Linked DNA regions of Homo sapiens: region 2 is linked to region 1. The links come from fine-mapping of genetic effects on gene expression. Tissue or cell type: lung. Region 1 holds a variant in brackets; the other region holds the start of a gene. All regions are shown on one strand. Distances are between the middles of the regions.

Region 1 (16,419 bases):
AAACAAAACAAAACAAAACTTTACACCAATTTGTCCATCTATTATACTAGCAGTGTTTGTGAGTACCTATCCATTTTACTGAAATTTCTCTCAATCCCTTAAACGTTCTTAATTTGACTGACAAAAATGGTATATATCACTGGTGTTTTAAAACGCTGAATGTTAAAAAATATGTATACCATAAAGTTCTTAAACTTTCCCATATGTATTTATCTCTGTTCTTGTTCTTTATCCATGTTCCCTTTTGACTTTCGTGAGCTTTTTTATATTTCAAATCTATCAACCCTTCTTAATGTTTGTTGCAAATATTTTCCCAGTTTGTGGCTTGTGTTTTAGGTTTTCTTGTTTAGTAATGGTTTTTGAGCTTCAACTTTTTCCATTTTTGTGTATTCTAAATCTATTGATTTTCCACATGTGATTTGTTCCATTGCTTATGTGCTTAAAAATTCCATTGTTTTCAGTAGAGTTTTTGGTTGGTTTTACTTAGCCAGACTTATAATTTTGAAGGCAATGGATTTGTTCCACACAACTGTAAATATAGCTGTAATTGTACTTTGTTCATTTTAAATATTTTATAGGCAGATTTGGATGTGCTAGCTATAAAAGTAGGAGCAGCTGTAATTCCTTTTAAACAGGGCCGTGTGTGGAAAGAGCAACTCTTAAGAAGTCTTTTGAAAAAATACTTGAAATGTTGACATTTTATTGCAGTGAACAGCATTCCACATTATTCATTTCACATTGTGTAAGAGCCCTATAACTCAAGGCAACACAACACTCAAATTGAATAATACCCCAGCATTTTCACTTTCAGAATTATTTGACTGGAGCTTTGTTTCAAACTAGCTAAAATAGCATTTCTCAAAGGGTGGTCTTTGGACTCCCTGCATCAGAATCACATGGATACTTGTTAAAATGGAGATTCTTGAGTCCCTCCTCCAGACATACTAAATCAGATCCCTCAGGGTTGAGGTCCCTGAATCCACATTTTAACAAGTATCCCAGGTGATTTGGGTGCCCTCTAAAATTTGAGAATTTCTAGGTGAAAGAGAAACACCCATGGAGGCAAAGGACAAAACACAAACATGTGAGGACTTGAGTTCAAAGATAGATCTGGGCCAGGTGCGTTGGCTCACACCTGTAATCCCAGCACTTTGGGAGGCCAAGGCAGGAAGATTGCTTGAGCCTGGGAAGTCGAGGCTTTGAGCTCTGATCTCACCACTGCACTCCAGCCTGGGCGACAGAGTGAGACCCTGTCTCAGAAAAGAAACAACAAAAAACAAAAGAAAACAAAAAACAGTGTATCAGTTAATAGGAAAAGGAATAGTCAGAATACAACAGGGCTTAAGTCTAAGAGTACTGGTCTATTAATCGGAAAAAGGAGCTCTGCTAACCTCGTGTCTGAGAACGACTCACAATCCTTCAAGTTCCTTATCCTTCAAACGAGGATAAGGAACTCATTTGTAATTGTGGTGGCTTTCACCTGTAATTGTGATGTCTCTCACCGGTAATGGCAGCCCTTTGGGAGGCTGAGGTGGGTGGATCACTTGAGCCTGGGAGTTGGAGACCAGTCTGGGCAACATAGGGAGAACCCATCTCTACCAAAAATTTTAAAAATTAGCCAGGCATGGTGGTGTGCCTGGGACCTGTGGTCCCAGCTACTCAGGAGGCTGAGGTGGGAGGATCACTTGAGCTCTGGAGGTGGAGTGATGGCCACTGCACTCCAACCTGGGCAAGAGAATGAGACCCTGTTTCGAAAAAAGAAAAGAAAAAAGAAAATACATGTACCAGGAGTTTCTTTTTGTAAGGTCTAATTCTGTGCCAAGGAATCATATAGTGTTTTTCTTAATTTGGGAAAAGAATCCTCTGTAATAAGCCATTTCTGTGGACCTCAATGCTCTGTATTGCAAATTAAGACTTTCTAGAATTCAGATTTTATTTTTAGACTGTGATCATTAACTTTTTCTTTTACGTATCTGATTAGGCTTAATGAGTTAGCTACGTTCATGACGTGTAAGGTCCCAACAACAATTTAAAAAAAGATATACATGCACCCAAGTATACATGATTGTAAGGTCCAGGTAAAAGAACAAATTTAACAGTGCTTCATCAGTTTTATTATTGTTAATAATAGAATTGGAGGAAGTGCTAGTAGTGGTCAGCATCTGGAAGGAGTGGCACCAGGAACCAGTGAGTCAGTGTTGACAAGTGTAGAGTTTAAGGCCAAGTAATACAGCCCCTGAAATGAGTTGAAGTAGCGGGAGGGAGAAGGGAGGGAGAAAGCAGGAAATCAGTTGAAGAGCTGTTAAAGTCAGAAGGAGCACAAGTTATTGACAGGATCTACATCAAAAGTGGAACAAAATGTCTCAGTCTGAGTGATGTGATGTGATGTGATATGATGTGATGTGATGTGATGTGATGTGAACTGAGTGATATGAATAGCCACCAAGTTGCTTTGCCTTTCCCCTCCCCCATTTAGAGTCTGGATTGGGTTGGCGCATGAAGTGAGGGCACACCTGTAAGAGGTGACTACATAAAACTAGTTCCTAGAATTAGGGAATTGAGGGATATGGGGGTTGAGAGGTGGTGGAGGGAGTCAAGGCATGTATTTTTCTGTTGTCACACCTTCAGGAAAGGGGAAATATGCTTTCTGAGCAATGTAATTTCCCTTCTGACCTCCATTCTCTTTAGGATTTCAGTTGCCTTTATTTATTACAAAATTACTATATTCCAGTGTCATCAAATCTCAGAGAGTAACAAAGAAACTATATAGCAGTAAATATAGAGATGCATAGTTATTTGAACCCTTCTGAGGCAAGCTCCATTCATTAAGTGGAATAGATGTGGGATTCAAGTCTGTCAGGAACCCCTTAAATTATTTCTGAGTTGGAATTCTTTCTCAATTTCCCACTATGTGTGTGATCTTGAATATGATGTATATGAGCCACATTTTTGAAATCTGGAAAATGGAGATAAACATTTTTATTTAAATAGATATTTGAAGATTAAATAAGATTAAATAAGATATAATAAATAAGTTACTATTTATTATTAACTTCAAATAAATAGTTATTTGAAGATTAAATAAGATATAATAGAAAAAGAACCTGGTACAATGACTGGTACATAGTAAGGACCAGTATCGTTTTTAAATTGATTGATCAAATTTCAATAAGTCTTATCCGATTTTCCAGTATAGTGCCTAAACTCATTACTTTAGCCTTATTCTGTGGGGTCTTCAATTCTTCCTCACTAGTTTTAGCATTTTTTGCTTGTCTCATCATCTATCTCTTCATTCTCTTTGTCTTTCATGTTTTCTCCTTCCCTCCCACCTGTATTTTTAAGGAAGAGCATTGCCTTTGATCTGGAATGTACTCTGGATTCAAAATTATGTCCTTAGCCTCTTGAATACTGAATATATTCTCCTGGTCTTCTACTCAGCGGAATCTCTAAACTAGCCTCCAACTTTTCTCACTTGGCCCCTTCCTCATTTTTCTTACTATGCACTGTTCTTCCCATGGTTGTATCCAAGGTTTTTTTCACATCACTTTTCCCCATTCCAGAGTAACATTTCTAGCCCTCCAGTGTTTGTCATCCTCTCTGGCCACATTCAAGTCATCCTCCAGATATGCAAAAATACACTGACCTAAAATCCAACTAATGATGGATAAAAGACCTGCTTTAAGACTCTGGAATACACTGCACTTAGAGTTAACACTCACTTCTTACCACTATTATTTAATTTTATTTAATATAATTAAACCTCTCTATCTACCCATAGGGGACCAAGAAGTTTAGATTTTGTCTATGGGGAAAATGCTAAAACCTTTCTCCTCCTTCTCTCTGAGTCCAAGTAGTCCTGGATAACAGAAATCTAAAGTCTTTTATTTCAAGTTAATAAAAGGAAAGAAGTTCTTTTTGGAGATATTTGCTTGGAAGCCCCACACATCTGGGTATGCCTCTGATCATTGTACACACACACACACACACACACACACACAAATATATATATATAAACAGTTCACACATTCATTCATTCAACAAATCTATCTATCTATATATATACCTACCTATCTATCTATCTATCCATTTTTGAGACACGGTCATGCTCTGTCGTTCAGGCTGGAGTGCAGTGGCATCAATCATGGCTCACTGCAGCCTCGAACTCCTGAGCTCAAACCATCCTCTCACCTCAGCCACCCAAGTAGCTGGGACTACAGGTGCAGGCTACCACGCCCAGCTACTTTTTATTTATTTATTTATTTATTTATTTATTTATTTATTTTGGAGACAGAGTCTCACTGTGTTGCCCAGGCTGGTCTCAAATTCCCGACTTGGCCTCCCCAAATGCTGGTATTACAGGCATCAGCCACTGCGCCTGGCCAAATTCAACAAATATTTATCGAAAACCTATGACACTTCCCCTACAAAAAAAGACAAAACAAAACAAAAAACAAAACAAAAACAAAAGCTATGATGTGATGTGACTGGGCATGGTGTCTCACCCCTGTAATCCTAGCACTTTGGAAGGTCGAAGCGGCAGGATGGCTTCAACCCAGGAGTTCGAGACCAGACTGAGCAAGAGAGGGAGAGTGTCTGTATTAACAACAAACAAACAAACAAAAAACTAAACTAAAAGAAACTGTGGTGTATAATATAAAATTCTGGCTGAGCAGATTAAGATGAGCAAACTACATGGTTGAATAGGGGAGATGAACCATGCACACAACTATAATACACAGCAAGAAGGAATAAACGACACATGGTGGTACAAATGAAATAGAATATGTCTTTACAGAAGAGAGAGATTTCTCCAGGCTGAAACCTTATGTAATTAATTTCCTTCAGTGACTGACCAAATAATATGTCGGTTTCATGAAGCAAGCCTCAGCTACCAGATGTTAAAATATTTCAACTCTACAGCAGCAGCTAGACAACATCCAAAAAAAATTTAAACTCAACATAAGGAAGAAATGAAATTCAATTGCTTCAACAATGAGCATAGTGTAATTGGATGAGGGCCGCCTGTTGGCATCAAAAGGTCCTGACAATTGCAGCGATCCATTTGTAAAGCCTTCTTTCTTTTCCTCAGGTTGTGGAAATAAAACAGTCCTCAAGAGTAAAGTGGAGAATTTCCAATTTTGTCCTTTAATAAATGAGTTGTTGGCATTGTATAGAATGAAAATAATGATACGTCTTTTTCCACCAAAGCATAATGACCCTTGTGGCCTTTCTCTCCACTCTGTACCCTGTACTTTAGATGGTAAGCAGCAATTTGAGTGGCAACATTGAAAAAGATGTTAACCCTCTGTTGCTCAGCAAGTACTAAGCAGATACAGAGCCTACATTGTGCTCACTGCGCCAGGACTAATAGCAAAGTGGTGTTCCTGAATTTTTCCCCTTCCTCCAAGCTCACTGAAACATAAAGTCTGGCATTAATAAATAAATACAACATTCTGATTGAGAAGGTAGTGCATCCACGGATAACTGGAAAACTTACAATCCTAGAACTTTGTCTTACATTGATGTTGACATCGTATAGGAACTTAGAATCTAATTTCTGTAAATAAATTTTGCAAAACGTTTACGAAAATCATGGAACAGTTAGGTTTCAAAAATTTTTTTTACAGTCAGGGAAGAAAGAGTTTCCCCCGCCCCCACCCCTGCACACAGCGGTGTAAAAATGCTTTGTTTTTTAAAGGACGTTAAATTATAAAACCCAGCTCTGAATTTTAAATGCCACAGACGTGAGGGTATAACACCTTATTAGGTTGCCAGATTTAGCAAATAAAATTACAGTATGCCCAGTTAAATCTGAATTTGAGATAAACAACAAATAATTTTTTTTAGTATAAGTATGCCTCATGCCATATCTAGCAACCTTAACCTTAGAAAACCATGCTTGATTATGTAATATTCCAGCTGACTGGTTAATTTTTAGGAGGCAGGTTTGCTTTTTATTCCCTGGGTTTTCATCTTTTCCCATTCCTGCATGTCTCCTCAGCATATGAGATTTTTTTGAATGAATGGAAAGATCTTCTGTGAAGAAGACCATTCAGTTCATAAATGAATTATTTTAAAGCCCTGAACCCCTCTGCAAAAAAAAAAAAAGTGAACAAAAAGCCCCTTTTTGGTCCTCTTTTTGTGCTGTTACAATTGCTCTTCACTTGTTGATCTGGGTTTAATCATTCAGATAAGTGCTTCAACTTTAAGTGCCTCAATTTTCTGCTGTTCTGAATATGAAGGCTCAGTATAAATGGGTGGGGGAGGGAGGGAGTCTATGGCACTGAGTCACATCAATTTGAAAAATAAGTATGTAGACCTCATGTGGACTTTTCCTGTAATTAAAGACTCTCACTTCCCAAAATATATAAATCAGATGCTTTACCTGTTCTGATCATTTCAATGAACATTCAATTCATGCGTCCATCAGAGGGTTCACAAATGCACGAAAAGTTCATAATTCAGGCTGGGCATCATGGCTCATGCCTGTAATCCCAGCACTTTGGGAGGCTGAGGTGGGAGGATCGCTTGAGACCAGGAATTCAAGACTGGCCTGGGCAACAGAGTGAGACCTCGTTTCAACAACAAAAAAAATACATCTTCTTCACACTTTTTTTTTCCAGACATGGTCTTGCTCTGTTGCCCAGGCTGGAGTGCAGTGGCATGATCATAGCTTACTGCAGCCTCAAATTCCTGGGCTCAAGTGATCCTCCCACCTCAGCCTCCAGCATAGCTGAGACTACAGACACATGCCACCACACCCAGGTATGCAACCAAAACTTGTAGGAAATATTACTGATTTTTAGTATTTGCTTTATTGTGTCATAAGAAAACCTTTTTACAAAACTTGAGACATCTTCCTATTAAGGTTATAATTCCATTATGGCAGACATATGTGATGTTGAAATCACTTTTAAAATCATTATATTTTAAAAATTATTGCTTTTGAAACATTTCTTGTACTTTCTTCAACTTTTTTATTAAAAATATGATTTTTACACCCTCTTCTTTTGAAGTCATTTGCAGAAGGACATGCAACAATAAGTGCCTGAACTGTCTCTAGAAATGCATAAGAACTCTATTTAGGCC[G/A]GGTGCGGTGGCTCACACCTATAATCCCAGGACTTTGTGAGGCTAAAGCAGGAGGATTGCTTGAGGCCAGGAGTTCAAGACAAGCCTAGGCAATATATTAAGACTTTGTTTCTACAAAAATGAAATAAAATAAAAGGCATGATGATGCACGCCTGTGGTGTCAGCTACTTGGGAGGCAAGGTGGGAGGCTAAGGTGGGAGGATCACTTGAGCCCAGCAGGTCAAGGTTGTGGTGAGCAGTGATTGCACCATTGCCCTTCACCTTGGGCAACAGAGGAAGACCCTGTCTCATAAAAAGAACTCTATTTAGGCTCTTTCATATATAACATCTGCCCTCTCAGGAATCTTTTTAATGGAAAAACATTGATGTCCTTCTGTTTATGATGATTATTTCATCTTTTGTTTAACCTTCAAAAACCTACAAAAGTTTTAAAAGATGTCATGTCTAGTATCTCAGGATACTAGAAATTGAAAGAAACTTTCTCAATTTGGCCAAAGTTGTCCATGAAATCTTTGTAGCCTATATCACATTAATGGTTTAAAAAAGTGAATGCTTTTCGATAGAAAAGAGGACATGAAATGTTACCAACTCATAGAAATGATAAATACTCAAGGTGATGGATACCTCACGTACCCTGACTTGATCATTACACATTTTATGCATGTAAGAAGCACTCACAATTTCCCCATAAATATGTCAAATATTATGTATCAATAAAGGGGAAAAAAGTGAAAGGGTTGCTCTTAAGATCAGGAACAAGATGAGGAGGTTTGCTCTCACCAATTCTATTCGACATCATACTAGAAGTTCTACTCAGTGTAATAAGGCAAGAAATAAAAGGCATCCAGACTGGAAGGAAAGCAGTTAAGGCTCTCCTTATTCACACATAACATGATCTTCTACAGAGAAGAATCTACAAAAAAATCTACCAGATATAATAAGTCTGTCGTCCAGTCTGGAGTGCAGTGGTGCTATCTTGGCTTACTGCAACCTCTGCCTCCTGGGTTCAAGCGACTCTCTTGTCTCAGCCTCCTGAGTAACTGGGACTACAGGCGTACCCCACCACACCCAGCTAATTTTTGTATTTTTAGTAGAGACGGAGTTTCACCATGTTGTCCAGGCTGGTCTTGAACTCCTGGCTTCAAGTGATCCACCCACCTCGGCCTCTGAAAGTGCTGGGATTCCAGGCATGAGCCACCACGCCCAGCCACTTCTGTTATCATTTTAAAAGCAAGAAAGTTCCATTAAACAGAAATCTTTATATACTTTTTTTTTTTCAGCCTTGCTGAGAATGAACTCCCGTATGGTTGGTATGCATGGAGATGTACTGCCTGATTAATTTATCTTATACTTTTGGGCGCAACCAATTAAAACTTGTGGCAGTCTCTTATTTTTTCTTTCTTTCTTTCTTTTTTTTTTTTTTTTTTTTTTTTGATAAAGACAGGGTGTTGCCATGTTGCCCAGGCTGAACTCGAACTCCTGGGCTCAAGTGATTCTCCTACATCAGCCTCCCAAAGTGCTGGGATTACAGGCATGAACCATCACGCCCGGCCTGAGTCAGTCTCTTGAAGTCAGAAGTACACTAGACCGTAAAACTGGAGACCTAGTTGTGCTCCAGCTGTGCCAACATTTAGTTTCACGATATGCAGCAAGCCACTTCACCTCTCTCGGCTTGAGTTTCCTCATTTAGTAAAGTAGGTGGTTAACAGAGGATCACTCCTGTTCCGCTTCTAAGACTTATTATTTAAGATATATAGAGAGTTTAACATCAATTTTATTATCACTTGAGACACCACTTCAGTGCTGCAACTTGAGCATTGAAGAGCAGAGCAAAACACTTCATAAATGCAGGTAAGAGTGGATATTTTGGTCTGACTCAGATAATTGCCTTAGTTATAAATTGGCATTGTAGATCTATCTACAATGTATGTTAATAATATCAAAAAATAATAAAATAAAATCCCCAGAATTTTCTGCTTTCCCAAATAAGCTCATTAAGTGTAAAGAAAGAACTAGTTTTTAAGATCTTCTGATTTAGACATTCAAAGTATTGAAAGGGTAGATTCCAGATTGATAACCATAAGGGTCTTTAAAGTGGCATTTTTAGGCAGGGCGTGGTGGCTCATGCCTGTAATCCCAGCATGTTGGGAGGCCAAGGCGGGTGGATCTCCTAAACTCGGGAGTTTGAGACCAGCCTGGGCAGCATGGAGAAACCTCGTTTCTGCCAAAAATACAAAAACAACAACAGCAACAACAAAAAAAAGCCAGGCATGGTTGCATGCCTGTGGTCCCAGCTACTCAAGAGGCTGAGGTGGAAGGATCGCTTGAGCTGGGGAGGCAGAGGTTACAGTGAGTTGAGATTGCACCACTGCACTCCAGCCTGGGTGACAGAGTGAGATTCCATCTCAATAAATAAATAAATAAAGTAGCATTTTAAAAAAGTATCTGCAGTTTTATTCTTATGCTAAACATCTAGGCCCTGTTTTGAAGGCACATACACCACACTTTTATACTCAATCAAGCAGATAGCCAAGTTGTCAGTGTGCATGTCTTACCAATAATGTTATATTGATTTCTCTGTAATTGTTTCTTTAGTGCATTGAGGTGTTATAGTATAAAATCATTAATCTTGAACTTTGAGTACCTTTATATTTTTTGAAAATAACAAAAAGTGATGTAGTATGCCCTGTTCCATATAGAATATGAACCTTAGAATAGATGCTGTGCTACACAGTTATCATTCCTTTTTCCCCATTCTCTCTATCAGTGTGATCTATTCACCTACTCATATCCAGAAATAAAATTTGTTTTGTTTTGTTTTGTTTTCTTTTCTTTTCTTTTTTCTGAGACAGAGTCTCCCTCTCTCACCCAGACTGGGGTGCAGTGGCATGATCTTGGCTCACTACAACCTCCACCTCCCGGGTTCAAGTGATTCTTGTACCTCAGCCTCCTGAGTAGCTGAGACCACAGGCACCCACCACCAAGCCTGGATAATTTTTGTATTTTCAGTAGAGATGGGGTTTTACCGTGTTGGCCAGGCTGGTCTTGAACTCCTGACCTCAGGTGATCCGCCTGCCTCAGCCTCCCAAAGTGCTGGGATTACAGATGTGAGCCACCATGCCCAGCCTAAAATTTGTTGATATTTAGTTTGTTACAGAAGAAGGAGGATTGAAATAAAAATAAAATATATTTATTATGTAATGACTGGTAACTGATTTTGTATTCATGTACAGATAGAATAACTCTACATTCTGAGAATTCAAAACCTTTTGGACAATTAAAATATTAAGAAACATGATCTATCTTGCTTCAATTGCTTGTTTTTAGCGAGTTTAAATATTTCACTAAACTTCATAGCTTTGAATGCATCAAGGTCTCTTCAGAGTTTTTCAGTGGGTAACAAACTTATGTGTGTGTGTGTGTGTGTGTGTGTGTGTGTGTGTGTGTGTGTTTCAAATTTGCCACTGCGGAAACTGTAAAAAAGAATATATATATATATATTCCCTGTTGCTCAAGCGATTGTCCCACCTCAGCCTCTTGAGTAGCTGGGACCACAGGCACGTGACCATGGCAGGCTATTTTTTTTTTTTTTGTATTTTTGGTAGAAATGGGACTTCTCCATGTTGCTCATTTTGTATTTTTGGTAGAAACGGGGTTTCTCCATGTTGCCCAGGTTGGTCTCAAACTCCTGAGCTTAGGAGATCCACCCGCCTTGTCCTCCCAACATGCTGGGATTACAGGCATGAGCCACCACGCCCTGCCTAAAAATGCCACTTTAAAGACCCTTATGGTTATCAATCTGGAATCTACCCTTTCAATACTTTGAATGTCTAAATCAGAAGATCTTAAAAACCAGTTCTTTACACTTAATGAATTTATTTGAGAAAGCAGAAAATTCTGGGGATTTTATTTTATTATTTTTTGATATTATTAACATACATAATGTTATACAAAGAATATACATATATTTTTTACAGTTTCTACAGTGGCAAATTTGAAGTATGGTAAATGTTGCTTCTGCATTCCAATTTGATAATGAGCCTTAACCTTGTCCATTTCATTCCATTAAAAGAGGAAAAAAAGTAGTTACTGGCAAAGCAAATGGCTCATAAAGTAATCTGAGTGATGGAAAAAGAACAGTTCTCAGCATGGAATGAAAATATCTTTCACCAAGGATGAAGTAGAATTATAGAAGTACTCCATCTGTAGCTACTTTTTACATTTAATAGTCTTAAATAAAATTCCCCTTGAGTATCTCTGACCATTGAGGTCTGAGAGCCTGAAACATGATGAAATTTACAATCTGGGCAGTCATAAAGAAAGTCCTACATTTTTTTCAGGCTTTGAGGGGAATGGGCATTCTATTATGCCTATTCCGTTGGTCACCTTGGGTCTTATAAATTTCTTTATAAATTTGCCATACAAACTTTTATTTATTTTTATTTTATTTAATTAAAATGTTTTTCTTTTTTCATAGTGATGGGGTTTCCACCGTGTTGCCTAGGCTGGTCTTGAACTCCTAGGCTCAATGAATCCTCCCATCTCAACGTCCCAAAGTGCTGGGATTATAGACGTGAGTCACTGTGTCTGGCTGCAAACTTTTGGATATTTTTCTTAAAATAAAAACTTTTCTAACATATACTTGTTTTGTGATGTCAAGATGGTCCAGGGGATCTTAACAAATAATAAAGAAGCCTTTCATGATACAAGGATCAAGACTTAGGTTCTAATATCAGTTTTATTGCACAATTATTGTGTAGTATTGGAAAAGTCCAGTCATCTTTCTAATAATTTATTATAAGGCTTAAGTGCAAATATGCTTAAAAGGTTCTTTTTAATCATAAAGCATTATGCAAATGTGACATATTTTCTCCAAACAGCCACCTAAATGAAAGTGGTGGGTTTTCAATTATCTGAGGCATAAACCATGAATCTATGTACTTTGACTACACATATGAGATGAAGATTAGCCTTGTGGTTGCTTATTAGATTGAAATGCTTTTGCATACATATTCATATAGAATACTTACAAATCAAATGTCAACTTTGTTATTTATATAGTGTTGACAATGATGATAATAGGTAACACTAATTAAGCACTCCGTATACATCATGCCTGGTGCTAAGCAGTTTCCATATGTTACCTAACTCAACAGTTGAAACGACCCTGTATTATAGAGAGGAAAGAGATAAAGCCAGGATTATAGATTGAAGCAATCCAACTCCTCTCTTAGCCATTATATTTTTATGCCTTCCAATACTCTTAAAAATCTGCTGTCTGTCAACTTTTTATTTCTGGCAGAGCATTCTTCAGAATAAATGCAAGACAAATCCTCCAGAGAGGCTTCTGGAAACTACAGACTCCAGATAGTCTCATGATACATTGAGTAATCTGGTTAAATGGAGAGTAAACATTAGGATTATGAAAACACAGAAGCACAGAACTTAATGGAGAGAACCTGCTTGATTTCCATAACAGAAAATCATGCTATACTAGAGTTTGGGATAAGTAGAAAGTAGATACAAAAGTGGGAGCCTCAGACAAAAGAACTTTAAATTTAAAAAAAAAAAACCACCTTTGAAAGTTTTTAAACCAAAAAGTTTTGATTACAGTCCACATAGCATTGCAGGACATGTAATGTAAGAGCTTAGAGATGAGTGGGAGGAGCTGATGGGGAATTTTGCAGGCAATATGACCACTCTGTAATTGTAATTGACAACTTGTCAATTACCCAAGGTCTTCCATACCCCTTGTGCCATCTGGTAATCACAGTATTCTGGTGAGGAAAATAGAACAGATTCTATTATGCCATTTTAGAGATATTTTAACTGTTAATGGCAGAATCTTCTTAAAATTAGCCTTGAGATTGGTCTAAATTATCATTTTCACAAATTATCTTTGAAGAGAAAGTACATGAGTACATTGGTCCCAACCCACATTTATAACCCCAGCATCCATCATGACTTTATTCACATTATATTCTAGCTAGACAGAATTACTCCCCAGGCAGTTATACATCTTTACCCATTGCTTTTTTTTTTTTTTTTTTTTGAGACAGGGTCTCTTTCTGTTGCCCAGGCTGGAGTGCAATGGCACAACCATAGCTCACCATAACATCAAATTTCTTTGTCTCAAGCGATCCTCCTGCCTCAGCCTACTAAATATGTCGGACTACAGGCAAGTGCCACCATGCCCAGCTAGTTTTAGAGGGGGTTTTATTATGTTGTCCAGGCTTGTCTTGAACTCCTGGGCTCAAGAAATCCCCCTGCATCAGACTCCCAAAGTGCTGGGATTACAGGTGTGAGCCATTGCGCCTGGCCTCTACTCTTTTTTTTTTCCTACCATACAAGCCCATCCCAACAACTTATCTCTATTCATATTGGCTTTTCAAATCACATCTATATTTCCACCCCTAAAATCTCCTTACTTCTTGATTTCTTCAAGCATATGTTAAAATGACAAGTTCTGAGTTGTCATCCCTGGAAAGGGTGCCAAGGGTCCTTTATAGACTCTCTCCTGAAGACAGCTGCCCAAGTATTGTTTCGGTCAAAATAATCAGGAAAATGTTGAACATCATTAAGAAAAATTGGAGGAAAAACCAGTAAGCAGTCATTCTATTTTTTTTTTTTTTTTTTGTAAATCCTTGAGGTGTCTGCATCCGGGCTCTTTTTTGTAGTTCTGGTCTATGTACAAGACAGGAATAATAGAGTTGGAGAAGACCCTGAGACGAGCAACTGAAACGGTGAAGGGGACGGAAAGCAAGGCGGGATATAAGCTATATATAAAATGATAACTCTTCATATTAAAACTGGCTAAAGGTAAGCGTCATCAGAGAGCTGTGTGGCTGCCAGATTTTGTTACTGGTATCTTGCCAGAGCATATGTCCTAAACAGTTTTATCTCCAGTGGCCTCATCCTTGGGCTGTAGTTTGGCTATTCTATTTTCTCTAACTCAATTTCTTGAATTTCTGACAATTTCTTCAGTCCCACACATCCCCATTTACCAGGAGCTTCTCATTACAGAGTGGTGAATGTCAGGATGCCCTTACCTACAGGTAAGGGGCAGGTGAACAGTCTTATTTATGTTCATACGGGTTCTAGTTTGATTCTCCCCCCAGGCCAATTGTCATACTCTTTAGGCTACCTGGGCCTCAACTAAGTTGTGTACATCAGAATCACCTGGGGAACTATAGATCTATGAATCATTTATCACTTAATTTCTCTATTGTGGAAAATCAGGATGTCATGTATGTATTTCTTTAATACAGAACATAACTAAACAAACAACAAAAATGAATCATTAAATAGAAAACTGCTTTTGGTCTAATGTTTTATACACACACACACGCACACACACATATGTGTGTGTGTGTGCGTGTGTGTGTGTGTGTGTGTGTATATATATATATATATATATATTTGGAGATTAGGTCTCACTCTGTCGCCCAGGCTGCAGTGCAGTGGCACAATCATGACTCATTGCAGCTTCAACTTCCCGGGTTCAGGTGATTTTCCCACCACAGCCTCCGGGGTAGCTGGGATGACAGGCATGCACCACAATGACCGAGTAATTTTTTATATTCTTTTGTAGAGATGGGGTTTCGTCATGTTGCCCAGGCTGATGTAGAACTCCTGGCCTCAAGCAATCCACCTGCTTTGGCCTCCCAAAGTGCTGGGATTACAGACGTGAGCCACCATGCCCTGCTGGTTTAACGTTATATTGAAGTTTCTCCAACTGAAGGGCATGTACTGTTGAGCATGCTCAGAAGCCAAGGTTCAAGCCATTCTTCAACTATAGATGCTTCAACTCATCTCTCTTTCTTCGGAATATTCTCTCCCTTATCAATTTCACCAATTATACCAAGTAACCCCCTGCTTATTCCCCTAGAACAGACAGAGCTGATACTAGTCTGTGCCTTATGTGATTTAGAAAAAGACTCTTGGAATGCAGCCCCAGACCATGATGTACAGAGCATGAGTTGGGTATTGCCCCATTTTATTCTCTAATTCAGGTGCCCTTGTGCAGTGAATAACATGGCAGCTGTGAGACTAGTGATGCTAAACAGGTTTAATTTTTGGTGCAAATTCTAATGAATTAATAATAGCTGTTTTAAAAAAACACACAGTGCTAAGAAAGACTCTGAGGCTGTTTTCAGGCTCAGTAGATAAATTGTACTGTAAGCTGGGATGATTTGCCTTGGTTGGGAGAATGGCACCAGGTGTGACAAGAATTTGCTATCTAAGGACTAGAGGCATCTCACCCGTCCTGAAGAGGTAGGAAGCCTGGGGTAGGCAGATGTTGAGGTAGAATGTGGGCCCAGACAAGTTTTATAATTTATAGAACACAACTTTAAAATGCCCTTGTAATACAAGGCAACAATCCTACTTTTCCAGGTCTCTAACAAAAAGCATCTAGCTGAGCTAGAGTGTTTTCATGAGGCATCTGCTACACAAAACAATGTCTTGCTTAATAAATAACACCCGTTTCTACTTGGTGTCATTTTACTGTTTAATCAAAACTTATTTTCACCACTCTTAACCACAATCTAAAGAAGGATGCTTCAATCTCTTCCTGATTTAGCCTTAAACTTGGTCATGTGTACCATTCGACTAGGATTGCCAGAGTCAGCCACCCTCCCAACAAAGGATGCTCAGTTAAATATTGCACAGAACACACTTATACTAAAAATTGTTTGTTGTTTATCTGAAATTCAAATTTAATGGGGCATAATGTATTTTACTTGGCAATCCTACCTGTGATGGACATATATATTTCCCCCCAGCTTTATTAAGGTATAATTGACAAATAAAAGTGTAAATATTTATGATATAAATGGAAATATAAACAGATGCTCCTCGACTTTTGATGGGGTTACATCCTGATAAACCTGTCATAAGTTAAAAATATTGTGAGTTGAAAATTCATGTAATACACCTAACTTACTGAATATCCTAGCTTGGCCTAGCCAACCTTAAATGTGCCCAGAACACTTACATCAGCATATTTGGGCTGATGTAACACAAACCCTATTTTATCATAAACTGTTTAATATCTCATGTAATTTATTGAATACTGTATTGAAAATGAAAGATAAAATGGTTGTATGGGTACTCAAAGTACAGTTTCTATTGTCTGTGTATCTCTTTTGCACCATCGTACAGTTGAAAAATCCTGTGTCAAACAATCATAAGTCAGGGACCATCTGTATTGTTGAAATAGCATTTCAAGCTGGATTCCTTTTTAGAAAAAAAATGATCTAAAAGGGATATGCCATAAAAATCTACAAATGAAGTGTAAGAGGTGATGTACACATGAGCAATTTCACTATA
Region 2 (16,419 bases), 37 kb before region 1:
CACTACCTATTACCTTTCATTCTGATTTAAGCTGTATTTGTTAGCGGCCTTGAGTTTATAACGGTGTCTGTAATTTACTGAGCCATGTTTCCAATTTTCCTTTGAAGGTGAGTTCTTGTTTCTTTCCTTTTCCTTTTCCTCTTTCCTTTTCTCTTTCTCTCTTTCTTTTTCTTTTTTTTTTTTTTCCAGAGTCTTGCTCTGTCACCCAGGCTGGAGGGAAGTGGCACGATCTTGGCTCACTGCAGCCTCCGCCTCCCAGACTCGAGGGATTCTTGTGCCTCAGCCTTCCAAGTAGCTGGGTACATAGGCATGGGCCAACACGCCTGGCTAATTTTTGTATATTTAGTAGAGACAGAGTTTTGCTATGTTGGCCAGGCTGGTTTCGAACTCCTGAGCTGAAGTGATTTGCCCGCCTTGGCCTCCCAAAGTGTTGGGATTACACGCGTAAACCACTGTGACGGGTCTTGGCTAGTTCTCCACATATCCTCACAAAAGAATAAATTAAATGGCAGGGTTCAGTGGCTCACGCCTGTAATCCCAACACTTTGGGAGGCCGAGGTGGGTGGTCATGAGGTTAGGAGATCAAGACCATCCTGGCTAACACAGTGAAACCCCGTCTCTACTAAAAATACAAAAAATTAGCAGGGCATGGTGGTGGGCACCTGTAGTCCCTGCTACTCGGGAGGCTGAGGCAGGAGAATCGCATGAACCCGGAGGCGGAGGTTGCAGTGAGCTGAGATCGCGCCACTGCACTCCAGCCTGGACGACACAGTGAGACTCCGTTTCAAAAAAAAAAAAAAAAAAAGAATAAATTAAACGATAAACAGGTTTCTGAGCTAAGCGAAGAAGCTTCTTCAACCTGAAACATGGCTAGAATCCTTCACATTCACAATGAAAAACAATAAAAGGAGTGTTTTTCCAATACCATTAAATAAAACACAAAAAACCCCACTAATTTCTAAAATCTTGCCAGCCTGGGCAACATGGGGAAATCCCATCTCTACTAAAAAACAAACTACAAAAAAAAGTTAGCCAGGCATGGTAGTACACGCCTGTAATCCCAGCTACTCGGGAGGCTGAGGCACGGAGATCGCTTGAGCCCCGGGAAGTCAAGGTTGCAGTGAGCTGAGATCGCACAGTTGCACTCCAGCCTGGGCGACAAAGCAAGACTCTGTCCAAAAAAAAAAAAAAAAAAAGGAAGGTAGGAAGGTACTCAAATTAGAGAAAAAGAGGTAGATATAGATGCCTGACAAAAATCATCTAAGGCAACATTAATCAACCTGTAAATGAAAATACTTATTGAGCACCTACCATATGCTAGTTGCTTTATAAGTGTTCTCATATAATAATTATGAGAACAAAGTGAAAAGTGAGTGTATTATCTTCATTTTATTCATGGGGTAACTGAGGTTCAGAGAGTTAAGAAACCTCCTCAATGCCACAGAGATATAAAATGGGAGAGCTGGCCCAGGCGCGGTGGCTCATGCCTGTAATCCCAGCACTTTGGGAGGCCAACGCAGGTGGATCACGAGGTCAAGAGTTCAAGACCAGCCTGGCCAAGACGGTGAAACCCCATCTCTACTAAAAATACAAAAATTAGCCGGGCACAGTGGCAGGAGCCTATAATCCCAGCTACTCACAAGGCTGAGGCAGGAGAATCGCTTGAACCTGGGGGATGGAGGTTGCAGTGAGCCGAGATTGTGCCACTGTACTCCAGCCTGGGCGACAAGGTGAGGCTCTGTCTCTAAACAAATAAATAAATAATAAAATGCGAGAGCTATTGGAACCCATACTTTATGCTAAAATCCATTCTGACTGTGCAACATAGCATGTAAATGATGCCCCTGAAAAGAAAAGAAAGGTAGTGAGAATGTGTTGTTGGGTGAAAGGAACCTTCCAAGTCACTTCTGGGTCATAATAGAATTCCCAGACCAATAAAGTCTTTGGTGAGTGAGGCTAGTGAACTGGAGGAAAGAGAAAAACACCATGGAAGGGTCTGTGAAATGGCATGGGTTAAGTTTCAGGAGGGATATGTAATGTACAATGAGCCATTTAAATACACAAAATATTTGTAAATTCAAGTGCTTGTAATTTAAGCAATCGCCATATACTGAAACCAGGCACAAATTAAGTGACAGCATCAGAATTTTTACTATTATTGGACCTATGTTTAGTTATATTATTTAAGCAACCTGAATGAAATGTAAAACTCTGAGTTTAACTGTAGTTTATTGAGTGATATCAAAGTACTTTAAGAAACTAATAGCCTTGAGATAAAAGGGCATATCAGCAAATAGTCATTTAGCCAACACCAGGATTAAATGTTTCTTTAGGATACTGAATGTTCATAGGCACAAATAAGCTTTGTATACTTGAACTGAGTTTTATAATAATATTAAACATAAAGGCTTCTTAAAAACAAACGTGTCTCCCTTCCCCCATTAACAGTTCCGTTTCAAAAAACAGAACTTCCTATGATTGTACACAGCACAGAATCCTACCTCATCCTGCTCTGCACCTGCTAACTAGATCAGAGAAAACCAAAATACTTCCAAGACATATACTTTACCTAAACAAGTTCCAGTTTAGAGTCACATATGATACAATACACTATATAAAGAATGGCCTTTTCTTTTTTCTTCTTCTTTTTTTTTTTTTTTTTTTGAAACGGAGTCGTGCTCTGTTGCCCGGGCTGGAGTGCAGTGGTGCAATCTTGGCTCACTGCAACCTTCACCTCCTGGGTTCAAGCGATTCTCCTGCCTTAGCCTCCCAAGTAGCTGGGATTACAGGCGTGCGCCACCATGCTCAGCTAGTTTTTTTGTATTTTTAGTAGAGACGGAGTTTTGCCATGTTGGCCAGGCTGGTCTTGAACTCCTGACCTCAAGTGATCTGCCTGCCTTGGCCTTCCAAAGTATTGGGATTACAGGCCTGAGCCACCATGCCCAGCCTTCTTTTTTTAAATGCCACTGAAATCAAGGCTATCTTTTTGTTTAAGCCAATGTTTAAATTTCAGGGACTATCAAAGGAATTCATCTTTAAAACATTCTTGGTGACTTCTAAAAAATGATAGAGTGCAAAATGATGTTCGATCAAGAATGCTTACTGAAGCATTATCTGTAAGATATGGAAACAAATGTTCAACAACTTGGAATTAGTGAAATAAATTATGAAACAGCCATTATATAAAATATACTGCAGTGATTTTAAACATTTTTAAAAATATTTGATCACTTGGAAACATGTTTATAATGTAATAAATGAAAAGAATGGGATATAGTGTTATTCCAATTTTTAAAAATTTCTCTTCCTACATATAAAATAAACATAAAAATATGAGCATTTAAAATTATAGTTACCTTGAATTTTTCTAATCCAAAGCAAAGTGATTGAAAACATCTTTAAAGTACACACTACACAAGACACTTTCCCAGTAGATTAATTCATACATGTTGAATAGTATAGCAATAGGATGTGCTCTAGGGACAATTTCGTATCATTTTCACCTCTGAGCAAACTCTTTGCACCCTATAATGGTGATTCTTCCTGATCTGAAACACAAGCCCCAAAATGTTAAAATGAACAACAAGAAATGGCAAAAATGGGAACATTCAAGCAAGTTAAGAAATATAGAAAAAAAGCTTGAAAATTACATTCATCTATGAATGAAAGCGTTATTTTCAGTGTCAACAGCAGAATGTCAATCTGAGTGCAACACGATGTAATTAGAGCTTATAATGTGGAACACAATAATATGAATATTCAAAACTATTATACGGCCCTAACAAATTTTATTTTACAGAAAGTAAAAACTTATATTATATATCACGTAAAACTTTATATAATATACATATGCACACATAAGTGTATATATACTCGTGTGTGTATGAATATCACAACTCAAGGGAATCAGACTTGTATTTTCAATGAACTGGACAGAGTATGAATGGGCGACAGAGTGAGAACCTGACTCAAAAAAAAAAAAAAAAAAAAGAAGAAGAAAAGAAAAGAAAATCCAAGTTAATAGCTTTGAAGGTGTTTATTTTTCAACTTAACTTCCCACATTTTCTGTTTTTTTTTGTTTGTTTGTTTGTTTTTCTGTTTTTCTTTTGAGATGGGGTCTCACTCGGTAGCCCAGGCTTGGAGTGCAATGGCGCAATCTCGGCTCACTGTAACCTCCGCCTCCCAGGCTCAAGCAATCCTCCCACCTCAGCCTCTTGGGTAGCTGGGACTACAAGCCCGTGCCACCGTGCTTGGCTAAGTTTTTGTATTTTAGTAGAGACGGGGTTTCACCATGTTGGCTAGGCTGGTCTCCTGGCCTGAAGTGATCCACCCACCTCGGCCTCCCAAAGTGTTGGGATGACAGATGTGAGCCACCGTGCCAGGCCATTTTTTGTGTTATTCATGGCATGCTACTTAAATGTATAGATTATCTCTTCCACTATGCAGTTTCCCAGACCTGCGTGTTGTCCTCCTTTAGACTGCAATTATGAGGAGGAAAAACTTGATTTTTTATGAGGTTTTTTACACGAAACCTCCCATTATGGGCAATCACAAAACTAAAAATGAGGTATGGTAAGCCAATGGACTCTGTAACAATTACCACTGAAGACCAAAATTCTACTCAGTAGTTAGTTAAAAAGGGGAAAAACACCACCCAATTAATGGCTTTAACGGGCTACCTTGCACAATATTTGAGGTAAGAAATAGAAGAAAGTATCACATGGGCTGGGCGCGGTGGCTCATGCCTGTAATCCCAGCACTCTGGGAGGCCAAGGCGGGCGGATCACAAGGTCAGGAATTCTAGACCAGCCTGACCAACATGGTGAAACCCCATTTCTACTAAAAATACAAAAATTAGCCAGGCGTGGTGGTACGCGCCTGTAATCCCAGCTACTCAGGAGGCTGAGGCACGAGAATCACTTGAACCCGGAGGCAGAGGTTGCAGTGGGCTGAGATCACGCCATTGCATTCCAGCCTGGGCGACAGAGCGAGACTCCATCTCAAAACAAAACAAAACAAAACGGGCCGGGCGCGGTGGCTCACGCCTGTAATCCCAGCACTTTGGGAGGCCGAGGCGGGCGGATCACGAGGTCAGGAGATCGAGACCACGGTGAAACCCCGTCTCTACTAAAAATACAAAAAAACTAGCTGGGCACAGTGGCGGGCGCCTGTAGTCCCAGCTACTCGGGAGGCTGAGGCAGGAGAATGGCCTGAACCCGGGAGGAGGAGCTTGCAGTGAGCCGAGATCACGGCCGCTGCACCACTCCAGCCTGGGCGACAAAGCAAGACTCCGTCTTTAAAACAAAACAAAACAGAACAAAACAAAAGAAGAAGAAGAAAGTATCACATGTAGGTTTTTATTCTATTGTTATCAACCTAGTCTCTTATTTTTCATTATAATATGTCTGGCTTTATTTTTCCTTTGCTTGTAAAAATTGGATGGGTGCAGAACTTTTACAGACAAAGAAAAATGTGGCAAGACTTACGTGATGAGAACCCTGCCATTTCTGTAAACTCTTGTTAAAGCTTTAGTGTTTCTATGATACACTGCTGCAGTACTTTGAATTTATATAGCACCTGTCTGCTTAAAAGCCAAGGCTTCACGTTTCTCACTTATCCTTTTACCATGCCTGTGAAATATGTAGATTGGAATCACATGGCTTAAAAATAAAGTGAAACCCAGATATGACCACAGAAAATTTCAATGAGTTACTTAAGATCATCTATCTGTCCAGACTGCAAAGGACTAAAAGACCCTAAATTCTATGCTCAATGCTTTTCCAATAAACAACACTACCTCCTTATTATCAAATACGTTTCTAAACTTTTAAGAAAATGTAAGGTTTCTCATATTATAAAATCAGTAGGCTTAATGCACCAAAAATCCCTGTCAAGGAATTAAATAAATGGCACCTCTTTATTTTAAAGAACTAACATTAGTCATGGAATAACCCACTGGTGATCACTTTCCTGAATAGTCATCAATTTGCCAACAAAGTATTTAGCTTGGATCAATGCAATTGCATCAAAGTTTGAAAAGTCAACTGATAAGTGAAATAAGCCAGATTATGAATATTTGAAAAAATAAAACCCAGCAAACCAAAAAGCTTGAGCAATCCTCTCTTTTTATAAACAAAAGCATGAATGGTGTCTGGCACATGTATGTACTCAATTAGTTATTAATATAATAATTTTAAATGACTTTCCGAAGGTCAAATTATGAGTCAATGGCAGAGCACTATCTAGAATCTAATTCCTCTGAGGGCAAGTTCAATGATTTACTTAAGATAATCTATCTGTCCAGACTGCAAAGGACTAAAAGACCCATGCTAAAATAATTAGTATTTTCATTTTTGTATACTAACAATACTTCTTCATCCCTAAAACAGTTTATACTCACTAATATTTATCTTCCAAGTGTCAAGACTAAGGCAAAATTTGGTATTATTAAATTTATCGTGAATCTTCTGAAATTGTCTCACCTCCGTAACTAAAATAAATTGGCCCAAGTATGATCAGATCTTCTAAGACTGACATTTCACGATTAGACTGTTTCCATAACTTTAACCAAAGCGCTCTCATAACTAAAATCAGCTAGTCATGACCACTGGTATATAAAAATCTTCCAACATTGTAATGTATCCAAAAAGCTTTGAAACCTCCAACACACTGAATATACATTATATGGTATATCACTGTCTAAAATAATACAGACTCAAAACATGACCCAGCTGACTTCTTCTAAATGAGTTGTATTATTTTCACAGATCAAAAATTTTGCCTTCTGGATCACTCTTCACCAAAAGAAAAATTGCCATATGACCAAAGACAACATGATTCTAAAAACAGATACCCCATTGTTGTCATGTATTGAGAGATATTCATTTTCAAATTTTATTTTATACCAGCTACTTTCATAATCTGTACCAAACATCAAAAAAGAAACAGTTCAGCTTATACATTCCACATAGATTATGCTAGATCAAACACAACAGCAAACTCATGAATTTATCATATGTGCTAAGAACACTGTCAGTACATTTCATGAAAATCCAAGTAGAAATAATGCCTAAAACAGAATATGGGATAATGGCAAATGGACTTTCTTCTTGTACCCTCTCAGTGTCACCAAAAAGAACCACTTTGGTGCTCAAGCACCATGGCCAAGCTGCCCTTTTATTTTCAGTAACAGAATTCTGTTCTCCTGGGAGAAAAATCTCATTGGGTTTCTGATAGTGCCCTAGATACTGACATTCTGCCAGTATAAACAGTCACAGTCAAAGTCTAATGTGCGTGTAACCACTTGTGGAAGAGGCTTAATCTCACCCAAATTATTACTCACTAGTTATAATTAATCCTTCTACCCAAAATGCCATAAGCCTAGTCATTTTTATCAATTGAATCTAAATGGTTACATCAGACTAGAGACTTTGGACTTCAATGTTGATCGTCTGTATTAAGTCAAGGCAAAGTGTTATTTATTTATTAATAGCTCCCCACCTCAGGTAAAGGGGTTGCTATCTGCTAGATCTAACAGTAAAAATCAAGAATTTGACTCCCAGCCCCCTAATTTCAATAAAAATTTGGGCTCATTAGATCATACCACCAAAAAAAGTCAGCAATATTGGGGGTGGTGTTCAATGAGTAGGCATCCCAAGACAATGAAAAGCTGTGGACTAGAGCCTAGCGATGATTCTGTTTAGACATGATTTCACAATACTTAAAAAAGAACTTATCCCCCTACCACTGTAACCTAGTTGAGTGGTAATAACTTCCTTTTTTTGAGGTTAAACATTTATTATTTCGATCTAAAATTATATTATCACCTCACTTCCACTAGAGGGGTCTATCTACCAGTGTAGTTAACTCTAGTAACTCAGGTGCACCTTAAATCCATTTCCAGCTCATCTGTGCCACAAGGCTAGCCTTGGGGTCAGAACAATGTGCTTTAAGGTTGTTCTAGTTTTCAGGCTCAGAAACGGATGAACAGCAAGAAACTGGAGTGCTCCGGTCATTCAGAGGCTGCTGCAGGAGACAAAGGGTTTTTGGCAAAAGAATACAAAGTCAGAATCTCTTAAATATCTTCTGCCCTAGTTGTTTTCAAGACTGAATATGCATCAACCAGGTCCGTTTTTTCTTTTTTTTTCAGATAAGCAAAGCTTTTAAACTCCTGACCTCAGAGGCTCCTCTGCCTCTCTTCTATACTCTGTAATATATAATCTGAATAGCCAAATTGCCACGTTTTCCCAGAAGCAACCTTAACTTGGGCCACTTGGGCGGGTATAGGTCAATATGGGAAAGTTGTTTCAGTGTCCTCTCATTATTCTACCAAACCACTGACAGGCAAAAACCCAACCAACTCGATGTATCAAATTTACTATCCACTGTTTTTGTGCATGATTTCTAATCCAGTTAATTGAAAACCACAAATAACTGGTGGTTAATTTTAGTCAAGAGGTTATTTACTACCTTTAAGTAGTTGCCTAAAATAGGGAACAGTTCAATTAGAATATAGGCCAGACCAAGGAAGATGAACAGAGCCTTACTTTTTAACACTATCTTGTGGGATTTAGCTTCAAATCTAGTATTCAGGGACAAAATGAGGCATGAGTAATAGGATGACTTCCCTAGAAAATAATTAGTAAGATGTTTTTTAAATTTAGAAAAACCATGAGATTGAAGAAGAGAGGAGATACATGTCCCAGCTCACATATATTTCAATCCCTTATTTTAAAAACAGCTCCTGTTTTTGTTTTGGATAAAAGCTGAGCACCAAATTCCCTTTCTGGTCCCCTCATCCAAAATCCTAGTAGACTTCCTTGATTAGAAGCTAGTTCACACTCCTCCCCACCTTTTTTTTTTTCAAACGTAGAGGTGGTTTTTGGAATATGGGCCTCAACCATTACATTCCAGCTTTAAAGTAAAAAGACGTCATGTGACCATCAGAGACTTGGGGCACGTGATTCCAACTGGTATGTGTGGGGCTCCAGCCACTTAGTTGGAATTCACCATGAACTGCATCTCGAGGATCAAGTTTAGGCTCCCCAGTCCATTGTGACATCCAGCAAAGTGGAGTAAGTGCTTGCCCCTCAATGGTTTTTACTTTTCCCTACATTTTCTACCTACTGTTAGCCAGGCTCCCTTCCCTCCTCCCAATCCCTCTTAACAGGCCGGGCGCCCCCAGCATCCCGTCTGTCTGACGCTAAATGGCGAGGCTCTCCAACCCACTTAGCTCCAAGCTCAACCTTCTGCAAAAGTTCAACCTTCTGCACCACTGGGGATATCGTGCAGCTCAGGTGAGAGGCAAGGAGCATCGCATAAGGCTAGAGTCAGATGCCATTAACCCCCACTCCACCTCCCGGGCTGGGATCATCTTACGTCCCGGAGCCCGGCGGTCGGAACCGCCAGCACACTGGAGCAGCGACGGCGGCAGCAACTTTGGGACTGGCGAGAAGCCAGGGCGGGGGTGGTCGGCGTCCCCGGGCCTCTCATTACAGCGCTTAAGTACTGCGGGTGGAGAAAAGTAAACACAGGCAAGTGCAGCTGTGCGGGGAAAGGGCGGGGGGGTAGACTATTACCTCCCTCCCGTCGCCCCTTTGCCTCTCCCTCTCCAAGAGTCGGGAGAGGTCCGGGACTGCCGCCGCCCCGACCGCGCGCCCGGGGCCGCAAAGTCAAAGGAGCTGAAAAAAGGACAGGGGGTGTGGGGCCAGGGGAGAACGGAAAGGTACTGTCCTACTAGCCCAGAGATGTTCTCCTACTGAAAGGAAAAAAAGTGCTTACTCATAGGGAGACTAGGTGCGTTCGCGACGCCCTCGCTAAGGACAAGGGAGGGAAGCAGGCAGAAGGCAGGCAACCCAAACCTCGTGCCTTCCCTCGGCCACGGCCCCCCCTCTCCAGAGCCCCAGGGTCGGCTTAAGCCAGCCAGGTCACCCGAGGCGGGCGTGTGGGGGCTGGAGGAGTAGCAGGCTGCTGGCTCCGGGATTTCCTGAGTCCGGGCGGGAGGGAAGAGGGGATGGCAGTAGCTGGAGAAGGACGACAGAGGGAAGTTGTGCGCTCCCTTTCCACTTCGGGGCCGCAGCCGCGGAGGGGAATCAGGGCAAGGGCTGGCGTCTAGGACTCCAGCCCAAGACTGGCAACAAGTTAAGAGCAACTAGTAAGAAAACACCACTTAATACAGTGAAGTGCAGAAAACGTGTCTGCGGCGGATGCTAGTAGGGAAACTCCCCGTCACTCACACCCATTTCGGTTGCGACCGATCGCCCGGGCGCCCGAGGGCTCCAACTGAAATTTCTCCGACCTCCCTCTCCCCCAACCCCCGCCCCACGGTGCGCCGCACGTTCCTGCTGAGCTTAACCGAGATGCTCTCCCCGGGACCCACTCCTGCCCACGCCCAGGAAACCCGCTCCCCTAGTGCCCGCCGGCGCCTACAAAGCACTTACGTAAAGTCGCAGAGTCCTGGGTCTGGCCCGACTGCCGCCGACCAACCCACTCAGACAACTTCTGCACCTCGGAATCTTTGCAGCTGTGGCTCTAAAGCCAGCGCTCCCTCCCCTCCTGCCAGCCCCCTCCGCCCCTCGGCCGCCGCCATTGGCTCGGGTGGTGCTAGCAGTCGGCCTGGGAACCAGGAAGGGGATTGGGCCACGAGCCTGTCACATCAACTGGGTGGGGATCCAGGAAAATAGGCACGGGGATGGGCACCCAGGAGGGATAGGGACTGCAACTCTGCTGCAGGGAGAGGAGAATGGTCCCCAGCGCCTGAGTCTCCCCTTCCTACTTGGGCTAAGAGGAAGTTAGAAGTCCAACGTGCCTGGCTCGGAGTACACATTCACACAATCTTGTGGGATTAATAAAAAGATGAAAAAGTTGGGAACAAGAATTTGAATGCCACCTATATAAGTCTATGGGGGAGGGGTACAGTTTCTCCCAGAATCGTGAGAAGAATAACGGCATGTTGGGGAACATTCCTAATTACATCTGCAACAATCAGTCCAGGTGCCAAAGGGTGCAGAGGGAAACATCAGCAATCATTCCTTTCCTTAAGAAGTCAAGGGAGAAGAATATGGGCAGGGCAGGGCCCTCAAGCCTTTGGCCTCATGCCAAGTAAATTGTTAGCCCACATCACCTGTCTGGTATGTTTGTCCATGCGGAGAGGGGTTGAGAGGAGGTGGTTGGAAGTACATTGGTTCCACTCTTTTGACCGGAAATGGGTATCAATTCTCATCAGTCTCCTTTCACCAGAGAAAATTTGGAGACATGTTACTACTCCCCAGACTGCCATTTCTTCTCCTTCTCTGCCCAGGAGATGGCTTCCACGTCATAGCTGACCTCTTTCATTAATACACGTGGAGGTTATCTGCATTCCAAACCTATGGTTCATCGTATATCCAAAATCAACTCAGAGAGCCAGAGTTTGAGGGATTTTGCAGGGTCAGGTCAAGAGACTGACTTGTGGGATAGCTGTAGAAGAAAAAGTCTAAGCCCTTTCCTGTTCCAGTCGTAACCATTTTGTTGAGGAAATGTGTGCTTGGAAAGTTCTGTCAACATTTAAAATTAGTTCAATTAAGTCGCATTTTACATGTACCAGGAAAAAATGCTGAGAGGCTTTAAAATGGAATGTTCTTGAAAAGGAACCCCTATTTCATCTGCCATTATGAATTTCCTTAGAGAAATTAATCCGTAGTGAGTGCCAAGGCTTCTTAAAAGGGAAGAACTTGGGGAGTTCATATATTGCCTAAAGGCTAGACTAGCAGAGGACTTGGCACGAGGAAAAAGCCTTGTTAAATATTAATTAATGATTAACCAACTGGAAGAACTTATGAAAGGCACAGGAAGGTGAAAAAGAAATGGGAGGGCAATCATGCTTTCACAAACATTGAATTTCTGTTATGGGAGATTTTCTACTGGTTCAGGTTTGGGCCAGCACAAAAATACTGATTTCAACATGTTGGCGTTGGATTGAACATGGAGCCAGTGCATTGCCACACACATTTACAGTAAGCTCCCAAATGAGATTTCTAGCATTCAGTAATTGGCCAAAGGTTTGGTGTGACTTCTGGAATTCTTTACAAAAAATTTTTAGATACAGGAAATAGGCTTTTTCAGTTTTCTACCTTTTATGGTGTCTGTCGGTCACCGCTGAAGAGCTTCCACCTGCTCTTAAACTTAAAATTACAGACTGAGCAATAGCATGAAGGGACTCTGTAAGCTAAATTTTCCAGTGCAGATATATTTGTCTCAATTACGTTGTATTCAATTTTAGTTTATTTTTCAAATTCTAGAATTTAAAGTAAAAATATTAAGAATCCTACGTATATGCTATTTACAGTTCCTGTTTTTAATTCAAAAAAGCTTACATTGGTCCGAGTAGGGTAGCTCACGCCTGTAATCCAGCACTTTGGGAGGCTGTGCAGTGGGAGGATTGCATGAGGCCAGGAGTTCAAGACCAGCCTGGACAACATAGCAAGACCTCATCTCTACAAAAAAAATTAATAAAATTTTTTAAAAGCTTAATAGAATCTATACTTTGATAAAAGTCTTCATTCACCACTATCACTGAGGATGTCAGAATTCAGTCAAGAAATGTCATTTTAATTGAAATGCAATAGTCCATAGTTTCAAAGCTGCAGTGTACCTAGCTGATGGCATTAGTTCTCATTGCCTCAGTAACTTTCCAACAGATAAAACACACCCTAAACACAGAAGCACCTATTTGGATGCTAGCTGAGATTCCTGTTTAACAAGCTCCACTATATAATCCAGGTAGAACTCCATTTTAATGAATACTATTAAGATACCCAGCCAGTTTGATGTAACTAAGCTACCTTTGTGTTGCCCAGAATCTAAAGGATCTTTTCAAATTTAGCATTTTGCTGGAAGAAAGGATCCTCAGGCTCAAAGCTCTTAAACAGCATTTCTTTATAATTTTTCATGCCATCAATTTACCTCATAGAGGATCATTCACGAAGTAACCCAAAGTTGATTGTTTTCTTATCTGTATCAAAAAGCCTGCACAGATGTTTGTCAGGGTTCCCTCCACCTGCTTATAGGCTTTAATTTATTTTGACAGTGACTTGCATAGTGCCTGACACATAGGAGTTCAGTAAATGTTTGCTGAACCAATGGTTATTTTATGTCTATTCTTGTTAAACAACAGCAACAAAAAGCTATTAATATATATAGGATTCTCACAGACCTTGTGAATCAGTAACCTAAGAGTTTTTACCTTTCCTTCCATTTCCAATTTTCGATCCTAATGCCTTTGTAATAAATCACTTAAAGTCAATATCACAAAATTTTGAAAACCATTTATTCTTCCTGTCCTCCGCTGATATCATAAGAAGGCGCCAATATCTCTCTTAGGTTTTTTGTCTGTCCAAACTACTTTTCTTTCCTCCTTTTGATACGCACATCCCCCTTTTTCTTGCTCTTTTTCCTATTGTTCTGCCCAACACTCTCCCCAGTCTAGCTCACAATGTATTATGTGTACATAGTCTAAAATTTTCCCTGAAATTTTCCTAGAGTAAGTTGTCAGTTTCCTCTTCTATCCATTTTTAATTCTTTATTCTTAACATGTCATTGCTGGTTTGAACTTTTTTTTTTTTCCTTGAGACAGAGTTTCACTGTTGTCACCTCAGCTGTAGTGCAACGGCACAGTCTCAGCTCATTGCAACCTCTGCCTCCCGGGTTCAAGCGATTCTCCTGCCTCAGCCTCCCAAGTAGCTGGTATTATAGGCACCTGCCACCACACCCGGCCGATTTTTGTTTTTTCAGTAGAGATGGGGTTTCACCATGTTGGCCAGGCTCCTCTCGAACTCCTGACCTCAGGTGATCCACCTGCCTTGGCCTCCCAAAGTGCTGGGATTACAGAGGTGAGCCACCGTGCCTGACCACTGGCTTGAACTTTTTATCCATTTTTTATTTTATTTTATTTTATTTTATTTTATTTTTTCTTCTTTTTCCTCACCCCGTCTGAGATAATTTTTATCATTTTTTTTAAAACCTCCTTTCTGTAGTCTATTAAAAAATGATTTTGCTGCATAAACTTTATATAAGCCAGGAATAACTTAAAGAATCTTGATCAGTTCAATACTAAATCATTTTTCTAACACACCTAATTGTTTTCTCAGTCTCTAAATGTAAAATTGTGTACTAATCTGTTTTAATTAATTGTATTTTATTTTATCAGATTATTTTCAAGGAATTATCCTTTTTTAAATCATCTTTTTAATTCATGGATAATTCTATTCCATGTTGTGATATTTTAGGTTCTTGGATTGATCCTAATCCCTCTTTTTATTCAGTGTGCTGTGAGATGACATTTTTATTAAAATTAAGTATGATTTTAAAGGTTTCTCTCATACTTAAAATATTTGGCATAGAGGAAATCTTGGAAGACCTGGACAATTATTAATTTTTTTTTGATCCATAGGATACAGATTTGAACAGTTATTACCACTGTTTATTAGTGGAGTGTTTTTATGTTTCCAACTCAAAATGTACACATGTATAGGACATGAATATTAATAGTGAATAGGCAATTGTCAAATATTTTTCAAACCTAAAGATTATTATGAATGTGAATGCCTGCTAATGCAGGCCAACTATCTTACACGCACATTCACATAAAGAAATTACTCTGACATGTCCAAGCTTATTTCAGATTTTCACTTGTTAAAAAAAAAATTATCAGTATCTGAGAATAAGAAAATTAAAAAATAAAAAACAAAAAATTAATTGAAGTCTCTTTAATAGGATTAGGACATATTTAATCAGTATGGACTTTATAATATGTAGATTTAACAAAGATCACTATCATCACTGGAAATGCTCAAAATTAAAGTGTCACCCTCCCCTCTCCCGACTTTCTGGGTGTTAAATATCTAATTAATCAATCAGATAACTATTATAAGCAACATAGAAAAAGTATGGTCTCAAAACACAACGAATTAATAGTCTAATATTAATTCAAGATCAAAGTCCACATAACTGTAATAATGAGAAAACAATTCAAGATAGAATATATAAGAAGCACCGTAGGTAGGCTGAAAAGAATGAGAATAATAGGGCTAAAGCAGTTGTAGAAGGCATCCTTTGTGCAATGGAACTTGAGCTAGGCTTGACAAAGATGGGTAAGACTTGATATAGGCAAGTAGAAATGAAAACCATTTTCATTCCTAGGAAGTGATAAAAGAAAAACTTCAGACAAATTAAATTTAACATAGTTTAATTGAGCAATGAACGATGGGGCAGCCACCCCAAACCAGACTAGGTGCAGAGAGACTCTGGTGCTGCCACATGTTCATAGAGAATTTATGGACAGAAAAAGAAAAGTGACATACAGAAAATGGAAGTGGGGTACAGCAATAGCTGGATTGGTTACACCTTGGCATTTGCTTTATTTGAACTCAATTTGAACAATTGGCTGCTTTTATTGGCCAAAACTCAGTAATTTTTACAAGTGAGGGTTACAGTGTGTTTACACATCTGTTTAGGTTACAGTTCACTATGTATGGAAATACTGTTTTTTTTTTTTGGCAGGGTCTCGCTCTGTCACCCAGGTTGGAGTGCAGTGGCACGATCATGGCTCACTGAAGCCTCAATTTCCCAGGCTCAGGTGATTCTCACACCGCAAGTCTCCCAAGCAGCTGGGACTACAGGCTCGTGCCACCACACCCAACTAATTTTTTTTTGTGGTAGAGACGCGGTTTTGCCATGTTGTCCAGGCTGGACTTGAACGCCTGGGCTCAAGTGATCCACCTGCCTGGGCCTCCCAAACTACTGGGATTAGAGGCCTGAGCCACCACACCCAACCAGGCTAAACTTAATTTAACATAAGAAAGCAAAATGGGAGCGCTTTAGGTAAGTTTCTGAGTTTGGGCTTTCTTTCCAGGCTTCTACTTCCTTATCTGCAAAAGAAAAACTGAGGATTTGCCTACCACAAAGGTGCAGTGATAACATCAATGGGAAGGAAGATTGCTTGGGATCTCACTAACGTAATCTTTTTAAAAGAGAAAATATATTTTTTTAACACTTACTTTAGTGATTAAAAAGACTTGTGGGCTGGGCTCATGCCTGTAATCCCAGCACTTTCGGAAGCCGAGGTGGGTAGATCACTTGAGCCCAGGAATTTGAGACCAGCCTGGGCAACATCGCAAAACCCAGTCTCTACAAAAAATACAAAAATTAGCTGGACATGGTCGTGGTACATGCCTGTAGTTCCAGCTACTTGGGAGGCTGAAGTTGGAGGATCACTTGAGGCTGGGAGGTTGAGGCTGCAGTGAGCTATGATATCACCACTGAACTCCAGCCCGGAAAGCAGAGTAAGACCCTGTTGAAAGAAGGAAAGAAAAGAAGGAAGGAAGGAAAGGAGGAAGGAAGGAAGAAAGAAAGGGAGGGAGGGAGGGAGGGAGGGAGGGAGGG

Alleles and levels. Positions count from the first base shown, and alleles are read on the strand shown. Sizes are in standard deviations (SD) of each study's normalised expression.
For the expression in lung of the gene that starts at base 8,969 in region 2, allele G in region 1 goes with a higher level than allele A (small effect, 0.19 SD a copy in GTEx).

The links. PIP is the estimated chance that this variant, and not a neighbour inherited with it, causes the effect.
Region 2: PLS3-AS1 starts here. The variant in region 1 is fine-mapped to the expression of PLS3-AS1 in lung (GTEx, PIP 0.98).

What each region holds. Positions count from the first base shown.
Region 1 is chrX:115,517,973-115,534,391 of GRCh38, reverse strand. It overlaps PLS3-AS1 (PLS3 antisense RNA 1), which reads left to right. Exons shown (of 3, transcript NR_110384.1): 3 at 14,681-16,203. Among named protein-coding and RNA genes, the nearest start is that of PLS3, 35 kb to the left of the region's middle. The variant G/A (reference allele first, on the strand shown) is at 7,090.
Region 2 is chrX:115,555,281-115,571,699 of GRCh38, reverse strand. It overlaps PLS3-AS1 (PLS3 antisense RNA 1), which reads left to right and starts at 8,969. Exons shown (of 3, transcript NR_110384.1): 1 at 8,969-9,074; 2 at 9,170-9,296. PLS3 (plastin 3) reads right to left here and starts at 10,526. Exons shown (of 16, transcript NM_005032.7): 1 at 10,440-10,526. RefSeq lists enhancers at 5,042-5,606, 8,977-9,752.